2 linked regions of the Homo sapiens genome follow. Each later gene encodes a partner of the first gene's protein in a complex. Links are inferred from orthologs where the notes say so. Each region holds a gene or a part of one and is shown in the gene's direction. Other genes may lie near its edges.

Region 1 (3,750 bases):
GCATGAACTCGGGAGGCGGAGCTTGCAGTGAGCCGAGATCGCACCACTGCACTCCAGCCTGGGCAACAGAGGGAGACTCTGTCTCAAAAAAAAAAAAAAAAAAAAGAGATTTTGCATTTATGGTTTAGGAACCTCTTTAATACAGATTTCTGAGGTAGTTTTTATGTTAGCTAGGTTAGGAAATCACTAGCATAGTGCATTTACTAAAAAGACATCTTTTCAGCCTAATTAGTAATTGATTGACATTTATAATATCAGCTGATGAAAACATTCACTGTGGAGACTTTTCTGCACTTTTTTGAGTAGTAGGTTTTTTCAGGATACTTTGTGGTTGGAATACAATAGGTAACTAAATAGCACTCGTTAACTGTTCTTTTTGCCCAGGCTCTTCCTGGTCAGCAGCACTGCTATTTCCTCAACAAGGATGCTCCTCTTCCAGATGGCCGAAGTCTACAGGGAACCCTTGTTAGCAAAATCACCTTTCAGCACCCTGGCCGAGTTCCTCTTATCCTAAATCTGATCAGACACCAAGTGGCCTATAACACCCTCATTGGAAGCTGTGTCAAAAGAACTATTCTGAAAGAAGGTACTGCCTTTCCTTTGATATGCTTACTGGAAGATGGAAACTTACTTCTCCAGTGGTTCTTTAATTGGTGGCCCATCAGAATCACCTGTAGAACTTAAAAAAAGTTTTTTTTTTTTCATATTTGGCATAAAAATCAAGCAAATTAGCTGCACGTGGTGGTGCACGACTGTAGTCCCACCTACTTGGGAGGCTGAGGAAGGAGAATCGCTTGAACCCGGGAGGCGGGGGTTGCAGTGAGCTTAGATCATGCCATTGCACTCCAGCCTGGGTGACAGAGCAAGACTCTGTCTCAAAAAAAAAAAAAAATTCAAACATGTGGAGCTTTTAACACTACAGATGATGGCCAGGTGTGGTGGCTCACGCCTGTAATCCCAGCACTTTGGGAGGCCAAGGTGGGCAAATCACTTGAGCCCATGATTTGAGATCGGTCTGAGGAACATGGCAAAACCCCATCTCTAGAAAAAAGTAGCCAGTTGTGGTGGTGTGCGCCTGTGGTCCCAGCTACTCGGGATCCTGAGGCAGGAGGATTGTCGCTTGAGCCTGGGAGGCAGAGATTGCAGTGAGCTCAGATTGCACCACTGCACTCCAACCTGGGTAACACAGTAAGACCCTGAATCAAAAACAAAACACCAGGCTGAGTGCAGTGGTTTGTGCCTGTAATCCCAGCACTTTGGGAGGCCGAGGTGGGCAGATCACAAGGTCAAGAGATTGAGACCATCCTGGCCAACTAGTGAAACCCAGTCTCTACTAAAAATACAAAAATTAGCTGGGTGTGGTGGTATACACCTGTAGTCCCAGCTACTTGGGAGTCTTAGGCAGGAGAATCACTTGAACCCAGGAGGCGGAGGTTGCACTGAGCTTAGATCATGCCACTGTACTCCAGTGTGGGTGACAGAATGAGACTCCCTCTCAAAAAAAAAAAAAAAATCACAGATGCTGTGTTTCCACACGAAGATGAACTGAATGATAATCTCAGTGGGAAGAGTTGGGAATCTAAACTCCACAAATCATTTTGATGGAACCAGTCTGTAGACTAGCATTTGGAGACCACTGCTTTTTGCAATGTTCTTAACTCTTTTTCTGAACATAGTAATGTAACTGGGTATTTTAGGGGCTGTACCCTGTAGCAGATATACATAAGGTAGAACTTGGAATGCTGTAGTGAGAGAGGCTTTTTTTTTTTTGAGACAGGGTCTCACTCTGTTGCCCAGACTGAACCACAGTGGCATGATAACAGCTTTCTGCTGCCTCTACCTCCTTGGCTCAAGCGATCCTCCTGCCTTAGCCTCCCAAGTAGGTGGGGCTATAGGCATGTACCACCAAGCCTGGCTAATTTTTTCTGTAGAGACAGGGTCTCTCTATGTTGCCCATGTTCGTCTGTAACTCCTGGGCTGAAGCGATCCTCTTGACTAGGCCTCCCAAGGTGCTGGGATAATAGGTGCCACCGTGCTTGGCCAGTTTTAGGTTAAATTTTAGGTTGTTAGGAGAGTGCTTCCCAGGTTTAGTTCTGAGTATGTTTTCTCTCCCCATTGTTTGGAGAACTTAATCTTACAGCTTTAAGAAGGTTTAGCTCTTTTTTCTCTCAGGATTCTGGAATGCTGATGAATTTTTTTTTTTTTTTTTTTTTTTTTGAGACGGAGTCTCACTCTGTTCCCCAGGCTGGAGTGCAGTGGCATGATCTTGGCCCACTGCAACCTCCGCCTCCCAGGTTCAAGCGATTCTCCTGCGTCAGCCTCTGGCTAATTGTTTAAATTTTTTTTAGTAGAGATGGGGTTTCACCATCATGGCCAGGCTGGTCTCGAACTCCTGACCTCGTGATCCACCCTCCTAGGCCTCCCAAAGTGCTGGGATTACAGGCGTGAGCCATGGCACCCGGCGTAAATGCTGATGATTTTCAAAGACAGTTGGCTATTAGAAGCTTTGCTGTAAATTTTGGCTGTTCTAGCTAACCATAGTTAATTTTAAAAATCTTAAGTCAGAAGCGCTCTGTTGATAGATATGTGTCAGTGCCAGTGATAGACAATAAGAAATAGGGAAGGCAAATCAGATCTCTTTTATTTTTATTTATTTATTTTTTGTTTGTTTTTTGAGACGGAGTCTCGCTCTGTCGCCCAGGCTGGAGTGCAGTGGCGCAATTTCGGCTCACTGCAAGCTCTGCCTCCTGAGTTCACGTCATTCTCCTGCCTCAGCCTCCCGAGTAGCTGGGACTACAGGCACCCGCCATCACGCCCGGCTAATTTTTTTGTATTTTTAGTAGAAACGGGGTGTCACCGTGTTGGCCAGGATGGTCTCGATCTCCTGACCTCGTGATCTGCCCGCCTGAGCCTCCCAGAGTGCTGGGATTACAGGCATGAGCCACCACGCCTGGCCTTTTTGTTTTTTTTTTTGAGACGGAGTCTTGCTTGGTCACCCAGGCTGGAGTGCAGTGGTGTGATCTTCACTCACTGCAACCTTTGCCTCCTGGGTTCAAGCAATTCTCTTGCTTCAGCCTCCCAAGTAGCTCGGATTACAAGTATCCACCACCATGCCAGGCTAATCTTTGTAGTTTTACCAGAGACGGGGTTTCGTCGAGTTGGCCAGGCTGGTTTTGAACTCGTGACCTCAGTGGTCTGCCTGCCTCGGCCTCCCAAAGTGCTGGGATTACATGCGTGAGCCACCATGCCTGGACTTTTTTTTCTTGATACAGGGTCTTGCTCTGTTATCGAGATTGGAAAGCAGTGGTACAGTCATAGTTCACTTTGGCCTCAAACTCCTGGGCTCAAGTGATACTCTTCCCTCAGGCTCCTCAAGTCGCTGGACTATAGGCATGCACCTCTACATCTAGTCAAATTTTAAAGAAATTTATATTATACTTTTTATTTCAGTGTACATATTTATACAGCAACATTTTTTTTGTAGAGATGGTGTCTTGCCATGTTGTATAGGATAGTCTTGAGCTCCTGGCCTCAGGCATTCCTCCCACCTCAGTGTCCCAAAGTGTTGGGATTACAGGCATGAGCCACTGTGCTGGGCCAGGAGATTCTTCTCATGGAAATAAAAATTGCTTTAGAAATGAGAAATTTTTAGTAGTTGGAGTAATAACATAGAGCATATATGTTCAAAGTTGTGGCACTTCTGTTTCATGTGTTAAAATGCCTTAAGAAGTCTCCAGATAGCTTTAGGGC
Region 2 (3,750 bases), on another chromosome or scaffold:
TCACATCTGCCCTCCTGTAGGTTGACACTGAGGTGGACATTCACAGGACTATACCCAGTCAAATTGAATGCCATTATCTGGGAAAAACTTTCAACTTCTTCAACCTCCTGAGTTATTCACTTTTGTCCAGGTGGGATTTACTTCTCTCTGTGCTTCAAGCAGCTCTGAAACTTTTTCAGAGAGAAAAGTCAAGTATGGAAACCTGGTCAGCAGAGACCCTTTATTGTCGGTGCAGAAATGTGGTTCTGGGTGGGGAAGTGCTCTGCAATGCACGGAGCTCCTTACCAGCATTTAGGCTTAATAGGGCAGTGGAAACATGAACCAGGATTGAGTATCTACAGAAGCAAGGCATTTTTAGTTTGTTTTGCTCTGAGTGAGGCCTAGAGGCACAGGGCAGTGAGCAAGAGTCTCCTTAGTAGCTAGCGCCCCAGGGGGCCAACAGGGTTATGTGTCAAGCATACACTGGGTGGGACTGGGAGACTCTGGCAGAGTGACTCAGGCTTTTTGCCTGTAGAAATCCTGCCTACACTTTAGGGTTCGGTTGAAATGCTACCTCTTTATGGATCTGCCCTTGATTTCCTCCTGGCTATTTCTGAGCTTTCCTTTTTCTGAACTCCCTAGTACCTTGCTGGTTTCACTCATGTCCCTTGTATTACAGCTGCCTGTGTAACCGTGTGATCAGAGGCATCATGGGAGAGAGAGCCTAACTTGGGTTTGAGTCAGATTCAGTTACATGTTAACTATGTGACATTGGGCACATCACCTAACCTTTCTGAGCCTTAAGTCCTTCATTTGTAAAATAAGAATAATATTCACTTTACCAAGCTGTTTGAAAGATTGAATGTAGGGTATGTACAAAACTTGATATATACTATGCATTTAATAAATTGTCATTTATTGCAGACTGTAAGCTCTTAAAAAATAGAATCTTATTCATCTTTTTTTTTTTTTATCTCCAGCACCTGGCACAGTGCCTGGGACATAATTAGGCACTCAGTAAATGTTTATTTGAGTCAAGTAATGAATTACTTTTAAAAAGATATTTCTCAAAATTTCTTATGTCCTGTTTAGTGTTTCCTAAAAAACTTTAGCCCCTGGGTTTTGACTTCTGTAGTCTCTTAATGAAAGAGCTAAAGAAGACATTCAACATGTGAAAGGGGGACAGACTGCCCCAAGAGCTCCTTGGAAATCTTCATGTTATTTCCTGCTTACATCTGATTGATGATTTCAGGACAGGATGGCTTAGAACATCCATCAATTTTTTTTTCCTTCCAGATTCTTAGAATTTGCACCAGGTATACCCCAGAACAAGACACCATGACTTTCTCAGACGGCCTTACCCTAAATCGAACTCAGATGCACAATGCTGGATTTGGTCCTCTGACTGACCTTGTGTTCACCTTTGCCAACCAGCTCCTGCCTTTGGAAATGGATGACACAGAAACAGGCCTTCTCAGTGCCATCTGCTTAATCTGTGGAGGTACCAACTATGTAGAAAAGCCTCATGAAATTCCATGAAGAACAGTTTATACTTGTAATTTGTGAAAAATTCCTCATTTCCCTTTTGGAGTTGTTTTACATGGGAAAACATGTGAATAAAGCCAGGCATACATGCCTGGTTTCATTGTATTTTTCCATGTTGTTACAAATTAACTAATGGTATTTGGGATCCTTCTGCTCAGAAAGAAATCCCAAAAAGCTATTACTCCAATTGCCACAGATTTTTTTTCTTAAAGGCAGGATCACACTATTATAAAATGAATTGTCTGGGGACATTTGAATGATGACAAGGGACTTGTATGTGCTGTTTGTTATCTAGTGGGTAGGCATACAAGTATTTGGCTGGGCCCTCCCACCAACCCTTGCAGGACTGGGATAAAATTTAGCTTTCTTCTTTGTAGTGACCCCTACTGGCCTATAGGAGGCTGAATCGTAAGTGGTTAAAAAGTAATGGTTTTAATTAAGGAGCAGATTTATTTTATGCTAAAATAACCATCCTGCTCAAGATTTGTTTTAATTCAGTTTGGTAGTGACACCTTCTGGTCAAAGGAGGTAATTCTTTCCCTGGGACAAAAGCAACCAGGCATCAAAATGTTTATACTACCAAGGGGGGGCAGTTTTTTTTTGTTTTTCAAGTATCACTGCTTAAAGCAACTGCATAAGTCTGCAAATTTGTGTATGTAATTGAATTACCAAATTAATGAACTCATAACAGTAGGAATAAGGAAACAAGGAAGAGGGGAAAAGGGCATAAATCCTGATTTTGTTTAATACTTTATTCCTGGTATCCAGACCGCCAGGACCTTGAGGAACCGACAAAAGTAGATAAGCTACAAGAACCATTGCTGGAAGCACTAAAAATTTATATCAGAAAAAGACGACCCAGCAAGCCTCACATGTTTCCAAAGATCTTAATGAAAATCACAGATCTCCGTAGCATCAGTGCTAAAGGTATGTCTTCGTGCTCTCAGTACTGTAGTCACACAGTGGACTTGAGGGCCTTACCAGGTTGTGTTGCTTTATTCAATTCAGGATGTTTAATGGCTGCTTTTAAAGTCTTGGAACTCATTTCTCATTGAAATCAAAAGGAAATACTATCCCTCCCCCCTCTAAAAAAAAAAAAAAAACACCTCAAATCTTACCCTATTCAATTATCTTAACGATTGAGAGCTTTAAAATTCATGACTGATTAGAAAAACATTGTTTTCAAGAGAATGTACTAAAACAGGCTAATTCTCTAGGTTCATACATTTAATTCCAGCTTTCTACACATCTCTGGTTTATGTTACCTTGACTCCAGTTTTTCTTGAATATCTAAACCTTTGTTAAGTTTCTCTCAATCACTTTAGCCATTGCTCTTTTGTATATAGGCAGATTTTCTTCTGCACACTTCTAAGCAAAGGAATTCTTGCCTAAGAGGTATATTCTTTGCCTAGTGATTTTCTGTTTATGTAGCAACTCAAGCAATTAATAGAGGTGCCTAGATCCATATCACAGTTGAGTGTTTAACAGTAAGGTTTTTCTATGTAGAGAGACAACTCAGCAGCTATCCCTGGTACCAAATGGGCTATTGTCATTCTCCTTTCCCCATCAGACTACTTACTCTGTCTCTGAAGATGTTTGCTAGCCAAGGAATAAACTCTGTATTTCAGAAAGTGCTTAAAAGCACAGGGAACTTGTTTGACAAGCAGTCTTAACTCGAGCTCCTTCTAAGAGGTCTCCTAGATGAGCATTCTGAATTCATCCTTGCATGGAATTAAGAGTAGAAGTAAACAGCAGATACCAGTGTGGTTGTGAATACGGTATCTTTGATTTTTAAAAATGAGGCTGTTTAACATAATACTATCATTCTGTATAGATGACTAGACTAGTGATATCTAATAGAATTTACTGCAATTACAGAAATAATCTGTACTGTCCAGTTCAGTAGCCACCAGACACAAGAGGTTCTCGAGCACTTGAAGTGTGGCTTATGCAACTGAGGCACTGTTTTTCTCATTTTATTTAACAAATTTAAATTTAGCTACCTAGTGGGTATTGTACTGGACAGAGTGCTGCTAAATCTAGTTGTCAATAGTCACTGCACATCGTGAACTCCTCTGTTTGTGGGTAACTGCCATCAACCTGTCTTTTTCAAGATACACTTCTTTCATCAGGAACTTCTCTTTGTAAATTGTTATTTCCTGAAACTAAGACATCATATTTAAACGTCACCATATCTCAGCTGCTTTTCCACAAAGTAAAAATGTT

The links. The genes of interacting proteins can lie anywhere in the genome.
Region 2: the proteins of MED1 (region 1) and RARB are in contact, whole or in part, in a crystal structure (PDB 1XDK), measured with the Mus musculus proteins. The link is inferred for Homo sapiens from one-to-one orthologs. Residues at the interface, in NP_001073587.1 of Mus musculus: His642, Pro643, Met644, Leu645, Met646, Leu648, Leu649, Lys650, Asp651; in NP_001276689.1 of Mus musculus: Ile264, Val267, Lys271, Phe276, Ile281, Gln284, Ile285, Leu288, Lys289, Pro435, Leu436, Glu439, Met440.

Annotation. Positions count from the first base shown.
Region 1 is NC_000017.11:39,416,553-39,420,302, reverse strand, and holds part of MED1 (mediator of RNA polymerase II transcription subunit 1), read left to right. Parts: intron 1-384; coding exon 385-586; intron 587-3,750. UniProt on the Homo sapiens protein: Component of the Mediator complex, a coactivator involved in the regulated transcription of nearly all RNA polymerase II-dependent genes.
Region 2 is NC_000003.12:25,592,228-25,595,977, forward strand, and holds part of RARB (retinoic acid receptor beta), read left to right. Parts: intron 1-1,275; coding exon 1,276-1,480; intron 1,481-2,292; coding exon 2,293-2,451; intron 2,452-3,750. UniProt on the Homo sapiens protein: Receptor for retinoic acid. Retinoic acid receptors bind as heterodimers to their target response elements in response to their ligands, all-trans or 9-cis retinoic acid, and regulate gene expression in various biological processes.